Linked DNA regions of Homo sapiens. The protein of the gene in region 2 interacts with the protein of the main gene of each other region in a biochemical or structural test. Each region holds a gene or a part of one and is shown on either strand. Other genes may lie near its edges.

Region 1 (5,132 bases), 2.6 Mb from region 2:
AAAAATAGGCTGCCACCCTATGGTTTGCTAACCTCTGCTGGAATATAGTAGTTATTCAATAAATGACAGCTTCTATTATGAAACTAAATACAGATTGAATTGAACAATAAGGAAACTAACATTTTGTTGAGTGCCTATTATATACATTTTTATGCCAAATCTTACACTAAATGCTTTTTATTCATGCTATCATTTATCTTGTCATTTGTCATGACAACCTGGTGAGTTAGGTATTATTATGCTTATTTGAAAATTAATTTGAGACTCAGGGAGTTTCCATGACTGGCTTAAGAGGCAGAGCCAGCTTTTGAATCCTGATTTATTTGTGGTTCTAAAATGTCTGCTTTCAACTACATTGAGCTACACTGGGCTGACTCCTAAAGGAATTTTCTTAGTTCAGATAAGGTAAAAACTTAAATTTTTACTGCTCCATAAAGAAAGAGATCAGCATTCAAGTGGATGAACTCACTTTCCATTTCCTAGACCTTCAGCAGCTCTTTGGTGGCTGTGCACATGTAAGCACCAAAATATTTGACCTCTGTTTTTCTCCCAGAACCTCTGGCTGGATCTCAAGTTTTATGTACTTCCTTTTTGGAGAATACTTAAGCCAAGGTGTACTGTTTGCAAACACTTATTAGCCTTGGGTAGATATTGGCGAGTTTCCGTTGGCATCAAATGGGCTTCCAGAATCTGCTGAGGCCTGGCTGTGCTCATTGATTGTCTTTGCCAAAAAGAGCTGCTAATTAGGATGACATCCTGCTTGTCTCTACCTCTAGAGCTAGGTTTTCCTTCCTGGGCATGCCTATTTTGTCCCAAGCAGTATGTTTGGATTTTTAGTGCAGATCTAGATGAACAAGAGCAAATTTGCAGTCCCTTTAAAATCTATGAAGCCTTGTGCTCCAGTGAAGAATTTCCCAGACTACGTTGCAAGATGTTTTTAGGTAGATGTCCTATGGTCAGGTATGTTTGGAGATACTGGGCTAACGAAAGTTGAACAGATTAATTACAGCAAGATATCTCAGATGATGCACTCTACTTCCCTGAACCATCCATTGGCTTCTAACCACACTCAGAATGAAATTCAAACTCCTAGCCATTGCCTACAGAGCTCCTTCTCTCATTTCATTCAGACATCTGCACAATGGCACATTCACCTCTCACCCCATCTAAAAGAGCACTCCTCTCACCACCAGTCATTGTTTATGCCCTTACCTTGTTTTGTCTTTCTTCTTAGCAAATATCACTACCTGAAATTGTGCTATAAGTTTATGTGATTCCTTTTTATTGTCTGCCTTCCCCCTGCTATGGTCTGAATGTTTGTGTTCCCTCAAAATCCACACATTGGAACATAATCACCAGTGTGACAATATTAGTTGGCAGAGTCTTTGGGAGGTACTTAGATCATGAGGGCAGAGGCTTCATAAATAGAATTTGTGCCCTTATTAAAAGAGACCCCATAGAGCTGCCTTATGTCTTCTGCCATGTGAGGACATATAAGGTGCCATCTTGATCTTGGACTTCCCAGCCTCCAGAACTGTGAGAAAGTAATTTCTGTTGTTTGTAAGTCACTCAGTTTATGGTATTTTGTTGTAGCAGCTTGTACAAACTAAGATATGCCACCATAATGTAAACACCATGAATAAAAGGATCTTGACTGTATTGCTTTCTATTGTATCACCAGCCCTAAAACTATGTATTGAATGGACATATGAGCTGTGCATTTCCAAGAACAGAAGAGTACCAAGTGTTTCCCAAACTCATTTGGCCACAAAACCCTTTTTTAGGTGATTCCCATGAGAATGCTTTTCCACATGACACACTTTTGGGAACTGCTTCTCTAGTGGGATCTTATCATCAAGAACTATTTGATCAACAGGTAACAAAACAATGACAACAACAAAACATTTATATTGAATGCCAGTTTCTGTGCTAAGCAGTGTTCATGAACTACATCATTTAATCATCACAATAAACTTTAAACTAGGTGCTACTACTTTGCTTTTAATATGGATAAGAAGAAATTAGCTTAAAGAAGCTAAGTAACTTGGCCAAGATCACATAGCAAGCAAATACCTCTCAAACCCAGAGGATTCTTATGCCAAAGTCATACTCTTAACCATTATTCATTTCTTCTTGTGGGCTGTGAGCTTCTCCATGTCCTAAGATAGAGAGCTCTTTGTCTCCATCCCACCCTTGAGCCTGTTCTTTCCTCCTATTAGTTGTTGACTAATCTTTGTTATAACCTCCAGATTTTCAGCTATCTCTTGTGACTCAGCCTCAAATCCCCAGACAGGACTCCTCTGTCCTTGGTACTGGTTTTTCCAAATCCAAAGCAATTTGTGTTTTTATCCTGAAGGCCACCTCTGAAAGCAAACACATTCCTTGAGGTCTGTGTCCTGAGACAGTTTCCTGTCCTAGGGCTGGGATGGTTTCCTCCTATCACATGTTGTGTCATCACACTGCATACTTGCAAGCCAGTGGGTGAAGCGTGAAAACAACTTCAAGCTCTGGGCTTTCTGAGCAAACTGCTAAGGAAGAGGATGTCCAAATCTGGGACACAGCAAGGACTCCTATTAATTGCTAAAGATTAACTTTATTCCAGTTGTGCTAGGTTTCAGATAAACCAGATACAATTTTTTCTTTTAGGAACTATATTGTCAAGAGGGGCAGACAGGCCATTCCAGGATGATAAAGGAGATGATAGATTTAAAAAAAGAAACATAGGTAGAATGAGATGACAGTAAAAGGGCATCTAATTTACCTGGAGGAAGTGGTGCCTGAACTGAATTTTGAGAGAAAAATATGAATAGGTGAAAAACATAAAAAAGGATATTCTAGGCACGAGGGAATGGCATTTACAAGGATATAAAAAGAATAAAAGGGTTGATGTGAACAGTATGAATGACAGCTGAAGTACAGGATCTGTTTAGAGACCAGAAGCAAGATCATGGAGAATCTTGAATGTCAGAATATCTGGACTTTTTTGCAGGCAGAAGAAAAGCATTTGGAAATCTTGAGGCCCAGGAATGTTAACCTCTATGTCTCAGGTTGAAGAAGGGGAAGGCTGGGTTGCTGGGGGCCAGTGGGAAAGCTGTTGCAGTGGCCCATCTGTGAGATGCTAAGATCTGAACTACAGGGGTAATGGAGGTGGGGCAGGGGGTGGTGATCAAGAAAGTGGGGAGGCAGTGAACAGATTTGCTTGTCAAGGCAGTAGAGACTACAACATTTTGTGTGTGGGGTTAGTAAAGAAAAAAGAATTAATCGAAGATGTTACTATTCATTATATCTGCTGAGAGGAATAGATTGAGGGAGGAACAATGGATGAGTTTTAGTTTTGGTCACACTGACTGTCTTGCTTTAGAATAAAATACATTTGGAATCATTGCCGTGAAAGGCCCCTCCCTGGGGTGAAATTCAAGAGAAATTATGGCTAACCAATGAGTTAAAACAACTAATCAAAACACTTGGCTCCACTATATACATGGGAGGATGTTAAATAAAAACTAGTCCACTTTAGTGGCTGCCAGAATTTTTTTTTTTTTTTTTTTGAGACAGAGTCTCACTGTGTTGCCCAGGCTGGAGTGCAGTGGTGTGATCTCGGCTAACTGCAAGCTCCGCCTCCCAGGTTCACGCCAGTCTCCTGCCTCAGCCTCCTGAGTAGCTGGGACTACAGGTGCCCGCCACCACACCCAGCTAATTTTTTGTATTTTTAGTAGAGACGGGGTTTCACCATGGTCTCGATCAATTTTTTTATTACTCATCAGTGAGGGTACTGAAGGGTTGAGTGAACTTGTCATTGATAAGAGGTTGCCAGAAATTGGTGACACTGGAGTGCTGGAGGCTGTGGCAGGCAGACTCTAAGGTGGCCCCATTGATACTGCCTCCCGGCATTCTCATACGTGTGCAATTACCTCCCCTTGAGTGTGGGATGGCCCAGTGACTTTCTTCTAACAAACAGAATATGACTAAGGTGATGGAATATCCCTTCCATGATTAGGTTACACAGGATTGTGATGTGCCTCTTGCTTATAGACTTTCTCTCTCTCTCTCTTTTTTTTTTTTTTTTTTTTTTTTTTGAGATGGAATCTCGCTCTTGTTGCACAGGCTGGAGTGGAATGGCTCGATCTTGGCTCACTGCAACCTACGACTCCCAAGTTCAAGTGATTCTCCTGCTTCAGCTTCCTGAGTAGCTGGGATTACAGGTGCCCACCACCATGCCAGGCTAATTTTTTTGTATTTTTAGTAGATACGGGGTTTCAGCATATTGGCCAGGCTGGTCTCGAACTCCTAACCTCAAGTGATCCACCCGCCTCGGGCTCCCAAAGTGCTGGGATTAAGAGGTGTGAGCGACCATGCCCGGTAACTCTCTTTCTCATTGGCTTTGTTAATGTAAATGGCCTTGTTGGAGAAGCCCATGTGGCAAGGAACTGAGGGTAGCCTTGGACCAACAGCTTTGAAGGAACTGAGGCCCTCAGTTCAATATCTCTCAAGAAATGGAGTCCAGCCAACAACCACATCAACAAGCTTGGAAGCTAATCATCCCCCAATTCAGCCTTTAGATGAGACATCAACCCTGTCCAACACAGACAATAACCTCATGAGAGACCATGAGGCAGAAAATCCAACTAAGCTGTGCTTAGACCTCTAGAAACCATGAGATAATAAATGAGTGTTGATTTAAAGTAATTTGGTATGCAGTAATAGATAATGAATACGGAGATACTAGTCATCCTTGGCTCGGTCCGTGTGAGTTAAGGCTGTTGAGAGAATAAGACTCTGCTCATTTTTCTTTTCTAAAAGAATGTCTTAATTCTGAAACTTTTAAGATTGTCCCTGGCTTCCAAGAGCAAGAGTCAGAAGACCTAGGATTCCAACCTGACCCTGTTGCCAACTGGCGGAAGATCTTAGAAAGATCTTTCCCTTCTCTATGTCTCAGTTTCACCCTCTTTAAAATGAGGTATGCTAACCTAGGCCAGCAATTTACAAAAACATTCTGTTTTTTCTGCACAGAGCCCTTTCATCAAATAAAATTTCATGAGGAGGCTCAGTGTACAAAATAGATAAGTGGAGGGGCTTTCATTGAAATAAGGTTGAGGGGAATCCCCTGCTTGGCCTCCCTGTCTCTCCACAGC
Region 2 (5,465 bases):
GATAACAGACTACAAATATGGTGCAGTGTATATTGCTTGGGTGACGGGTGCACCAAAATTTCACAAGTCACCACTAAAGAACTTACTCATGTAATGAAATACCAATACCTTATGGAAAAATAAAATAAAAAATAGGGGAAGAAGAAATTGCATAACTCTGTTATGCAGTTTAACAATTTTGTGGTAACAAGATGATCACTTAACAACAGCTTCTTCAACCCTTATGTTGTAACATTCTAGGATGTTTGTCTGTTTCTTGAAAGGGAGGGTAGGGTCACTCCAATTCTGGGAAAGTTTTTGAAGCCGAAGAACAAGTTGTATTATGTCAAGACTGAGTTATAGCTTCCCAGTGTCACACAGGAAGTTTGTATCAACACCAGGATAAGGACTTGGGCCTCCTAAATGCAAGGCACCACAAACCAGTGGGCTTAATGCTGAGACATTACCTAGGCTTCTGTCGGGCTGTATGCTCCCCATTTCATAATGAAAGCACACAAAAAATTAGCATTTTTGATGACTGTGAAGTGCCTTGCACTGTTTTAAGCACTTTGTTTGTATAAGCACTCATTTAATATATCATCCTTAACTGACAGATAAGCAAATTGAGACATAGTCCAGATAAATGTCTTTGTCAGGGTCAACTGATGCCAATTAACTATTAGCTTTCATGTAATTCAGTATTTATACTATATTGTTTCTTTCCTCAACTCTGCTATACATGGTCTTCTACTTATTACTTCCCAGATTTATCATTTACATTTTTGCTCTTCTTTTAGGTTAAGAATTTAAAGATCCATCTGCAGAGCTGTTCTTTTACAATTTCCAGCTCAAATGGGCCCTCCTCTGTAAAGCCTTCTCTGATTGCTTCTAGGAAGAACAACCCTCCACTCCCCACCACCCTGCATTTTGGCATAACATTGTGTGTGTGTGTGTGTGTGTGTGTGTGTGTGTGTGTGTGTGTGTATTGACATGCCTCTCTTGCCAAAATGAATCTGAACTCCGTAACTTTGAGGGCACTTCTTGGTCATTTACTTCTGCAGCTTCATGTGCCTTTTCAACCACAGAGTAGCTTCTTCATAAATATTAGATGGCCAGATGAGTAAAATAAAGAACACTCTCAAGGAGAAAAAAGAAAGTGAGAACTTTATTTCCGTGTACTGAACTGCCAACAAAACTGAGAGGTAGATATTATCCCCATTTTAAGCCGAGACAAACAAGACAGATACCATAAGACAGGATCAGAACACAGATCTGTCTGATTCCCAAAGCTTTTGTTCTCTCTAATACATGAGAAGAAAGACAGGCACATTAATGGTCACATGCAGAAGCGGTTAATGGAGTTCACAGACAAGAAAGGAAGAAAGAGAGCAAGGAGAAAATGAACATCAAAAAATAAGGAAGTTGGAATACTGACAGGTCAAAGCAGAGAGAAAGACAAGACTTACTAAGCAAGAACTAACTTAGTGCACAATAAGAAAATGCAAAGGAAGGAAGATTGTGGTGACATTTAGAGAGCTTAGAATGGCAACAGAATTGAGCTTCAGATATTTGGAAGAGTTTTATTCAAAACCGTGGCAAGAGCCAGAAAAAGTAAAGGGCAGAGACAAGGGCCTGCAGCAGGCAAGGAGGAAGCATGATTTAGAGACAGATGCCACAGCTCAGGAAGGGAGCGGCTTGACCCTGCTGCTTGGAAAGGGGCATGCCTGGGAGTGCTGGCACTAAGGACACTGTTGGTTGCTATTTGCAGTGGCATAAGGATGAAGGATGATAGCAGCCCTATAGTGATATAAGGGACCATCATGAATGGCATTTCAAGAAAGAAAGCAGGAAGGAATGAGGAACCAGAGTTCTCTGTTTTTATCAATCCACAACTGTGAAATTTATGAAGAAAGTTTACTCTCAACTGACAAGCATTCACATATGGTAAGAGGCACAAGGGGTCGAATGGTACCTCTGTGACTAACAGTGTAGGAGCCTGGGAGATATCACTTTAAATGTCAAGTATGGGAAAGAAGAAAGAATAATTGCAAGGATTAGTCCACAAAAGTGCTTGAGTTTAGAGAAACTGTATTCTTCTCCTTTAAGATAATTAAAACTGACCAAGTATACACATTGCTGAAATAGAGGAGACTCCTGTAAGAATGACATATAGCTTAATTTAAAAGCTTTTGGAATATGTAGGCAAAATGGAAGATATTCTTGAGTTTATAACATGGGGCAAAAGAGAAACTCCTCCTTGGAGGAGTTTTCAATCTGTTATCATAATAACTCCTTGCATTTATGTAGCACTTCCCTAAATTTTATTGGAGGCTCTGTCTCATTTCATTCTCAAAACTTTCACAGAAGACAGCGTAAAAATAACGTTATCTCATAGATAAACAGAGACCAAAGAGCAAAGAGATCAAGAGATTTGCCTTTGTTCAACAGCCTGTTAGTGGTGGAGCCATTTCACTATCAATGTCTTGTTTCCACAGCCTTTCACCTATAACTCAATGGGGTTGATAGCTTAATCCTTTTCAGAAATGAGGGAACATGGGAAATATTATAAATACATGGATACATCATGACTTGACGAATGAGTCTCCCGTTTTGATATAGCATCATCAGGTTTAGAACGCTAAAACCACATGTTAAGGATGCTGGAAAATCTGGATGATGAAGTTACACCTCTAATCATAGAATAGAATTCCTGGAATGGACATTTACTCCAATTGCCACAATTTATAGGTAAGGAAACAGCCCTGGAGATGTGAACATGCTAGAATGTCAGAGAGCTGGCCTGACCCTCAGCAGCCGTTTGGTTCATTCCTTTCTGACTGCCAATCTTTCTTGTGACACCTTCAAAATTTTTCCAAATCTGCATACCTTTTATATAATTCATTTCATCCCGTTTTTTTCCTAAGTTGGCCCACATTTTAAACTTAAATATATTTTAAAGAGATAATTGATTCTTAGCTAGTCACAAAATTTATTATAAATAAAAGTAACCATGAAAATAAACATATAACCACTAAAGGTAATACATTCATCTGTCAACCACATAAAATCATCTTATTTACTAACATGTCACACTTTTGAAAATGCTGATCTGACCTAAATGTCCCATTTTACAAATGAGAGACCTGAGCCCAGAGGTGCGCTCCCGGTGGCAGACCTGAATCCTAAACCTCACTACCTCTATCGCTGTTCACTTATCTGATCTCAGCTGTTAATATGCCAGAAACTGGCAAAGGTATTCCCTGCCTTTAGTGGTGCTAGACTCTCAGGTGCTGAAACCACAGCTAATTCAGCCAAAGATGATGTGTAGAGAGGACTCAGAAGGCCCTATTAATAACTCAGCTGAGCACAGCACTAGCCAGATATTCATCCCCTGCCATTAATTTCAAAAGTGCTCTTTGCAAGCAGGAAAATTTTGACAGCAGGTGTTTCCCACTGGGGAGCAGTAGACTCCTCAGAAGACTCAGGGTCTCAGCTTAAAGACCAAAACTACTGAATTTCAACCGTCAGTGATCACTTCCCCAATTCCCCTCAACGATAAGGAAAAAGGAGTTTCTGGGAAGATTGGCAGTGGCCCAGCAAGTTTTCGCAAGGAAATCCTGTGTTTTTCAGAGGGGAAAGTCATTTTTGGAATCTTAGTACTCAAGGCAAGATGAATACTTAGCAAAAGTGGAGTTAAATTTTACTTTGATATATTTTGGACTGGAAACAAAAAACAACATCACATTGACAACAGATGCCTCAGAGAGTTTAGAAAAGACCACAACATTTTTCTGGTATATATTTATGTGGGGTCTCAGCTACCCAGGATGATAAAGAAGGGAAAATGACAACGTGATAGGTAGAAACTAGGAGAACTAAAATGATTGCATGGACACAACATCTAAATGGATGTAGTGAGCTCACCATCAAATAGGCCAATCCTAGTATCCCAAAGAGTCTGATCTAGTGGGATTGAGAAGAATCAACTATACAGTGTAAAATAAAAATACATTATCTGACCTTGCCTGGGCTATCATGAATCTTAGCAATAAATCTCAAGAACAAAACCAATAACCATATTAAATGTGGGTGGTTATTCTCCATTTTCCATTATAACAGTAATTCCCAAATCTGTCTGTGCACGAAAACTGGGAGAATATTTTAAAATATAAATTCCTTAGGACTAACCTCTGATATTGAACCAGAATTTCTAGCAATAAAGATCATAAAGATAGATAATTAGTACCTAGATACACAGACACATAGATAGCAGAATGAAAGTCATTAAGTGATTCTTAAGCCAAGCATTTGTTTAAAAGTGAGAGTTTGGGACCTGCTCAACTTTGTCATCTTCATATATGGTTTCCATTTTAATCGTTGTATTGAAATAAAATCAGCTGTAGACTGCCTGGAATTCTTTGTCAAAATGAAGTTTGCAAAAAGAGGCTAGAAGAAGATAGAAAAGATGTAAGAGAGAGAGCAAGTGATTTGGAGACACAAGATCAAGGAACCGATCTTGGGATAGAAAATACTCTTCTCCAGTTCCATCCATGCTCTCACTTATGAGTGGAAACTAAATAATTTGTAGACATGGACATGGAGAATGAAATAACAGACATTGAGGACTCAGAAAGGTGGGAAGGGGTTAAGGGATGAGAAAGTACCTAATAGGTACAAAGTACACTGTTCAGTTGATGGTTACGCTAACAGCCCAGACTAAACCATTATGCAATATATTCATGTAACAAAACTGCATTTGCACTCTCTAAATCTATAAAAATTAAAATAAAATTTTCTAACCTTGAAGAGAGTCTTTGTTACCCATCTTAAAAAGAATGAAGTCAGAGTAGAGACATGAAGTTGTCTTTTTTTTAAATAGTTTTTTTAACTCTATATTTTTATATAGTGTCTCCTAGGGAATCCCACAAATAGAAAGAGTGTTTATTCCTTTCTGAGGAGGAGAACAGACCTCCCAGAGTCCAAAGGGAAAGACAAGGACAGTCCCAGGAAGAGGAAGGGTCATGCACTAGCATCTCACGGCCGAGCCCTAGGAAGACGGAGGGGCAAGGTCCTGGGGTGGCTGTGGATAGAGTCAGGCTGGGTTATTTCAGGTCAGTCCTGCCTTGCTTGGCCCATGGGAAATGGGGTGTTGTTAGTATGAGTCAAGAGCTCAAATTGGTAACTGGCTGGTTTTGATTTAATTACATAGTGAGATAGTTTCCTAGGAGCATACAACACAATCCTTTCTCCTAAACGTGAGTTTAATTTTCAACAAAACACTTCTCTCATAAACATCACGTCATTTCTAAACCTTTATTGCCATTCCCAGAACTGCTTGCAGCCTTTCAGAAACCCATTATTTTATAATTATAATCAAGACTATTAGGACAGGACAATTTGTGCCAAAAAGCGCATTTACACTCAGAATTGTCACTTAGCACTGTCACAGGAGGGATCATCTTTATTTCTGTAGAAATCAAGGAGAG

What was found. Proteins that work in one complex are often made in the same cells at the same time.
Region 1: the proteins of TLR4 (region 2) and TNC form a complex in vitro, tested with the Homo sapiens proteins (one study listed by IntAct).

What each region holds. Positions count from the first base shown.
Region 1 is NC_000009.12:115,107,350-115,112,481, forward strand, and holds part of TNC (tenascin isoform 1 precursor), read right to left. Parts: intron 4,203-5,132; exon of another isoform or gene 4,080-4,202; intron 1-4,079. UniProt on the Homo sapiens protein: Extracellular matrix protein implicated in guidance of migrating neurons as well as axons during development, synaptic plasticity as well as neuronal regeneration. Promotes neurite outgrowth from cortical neurons grown on a monolayer of astrocytes.
Region 2 is NC_000009.12:117,720,388-117,725,852, reverse strand, and holds the end of TLR4 (toll-like receptor 4 isoform A precursor), read right to left. Parts: 3' UTR 1,118-5,465; downstream 1-1,117.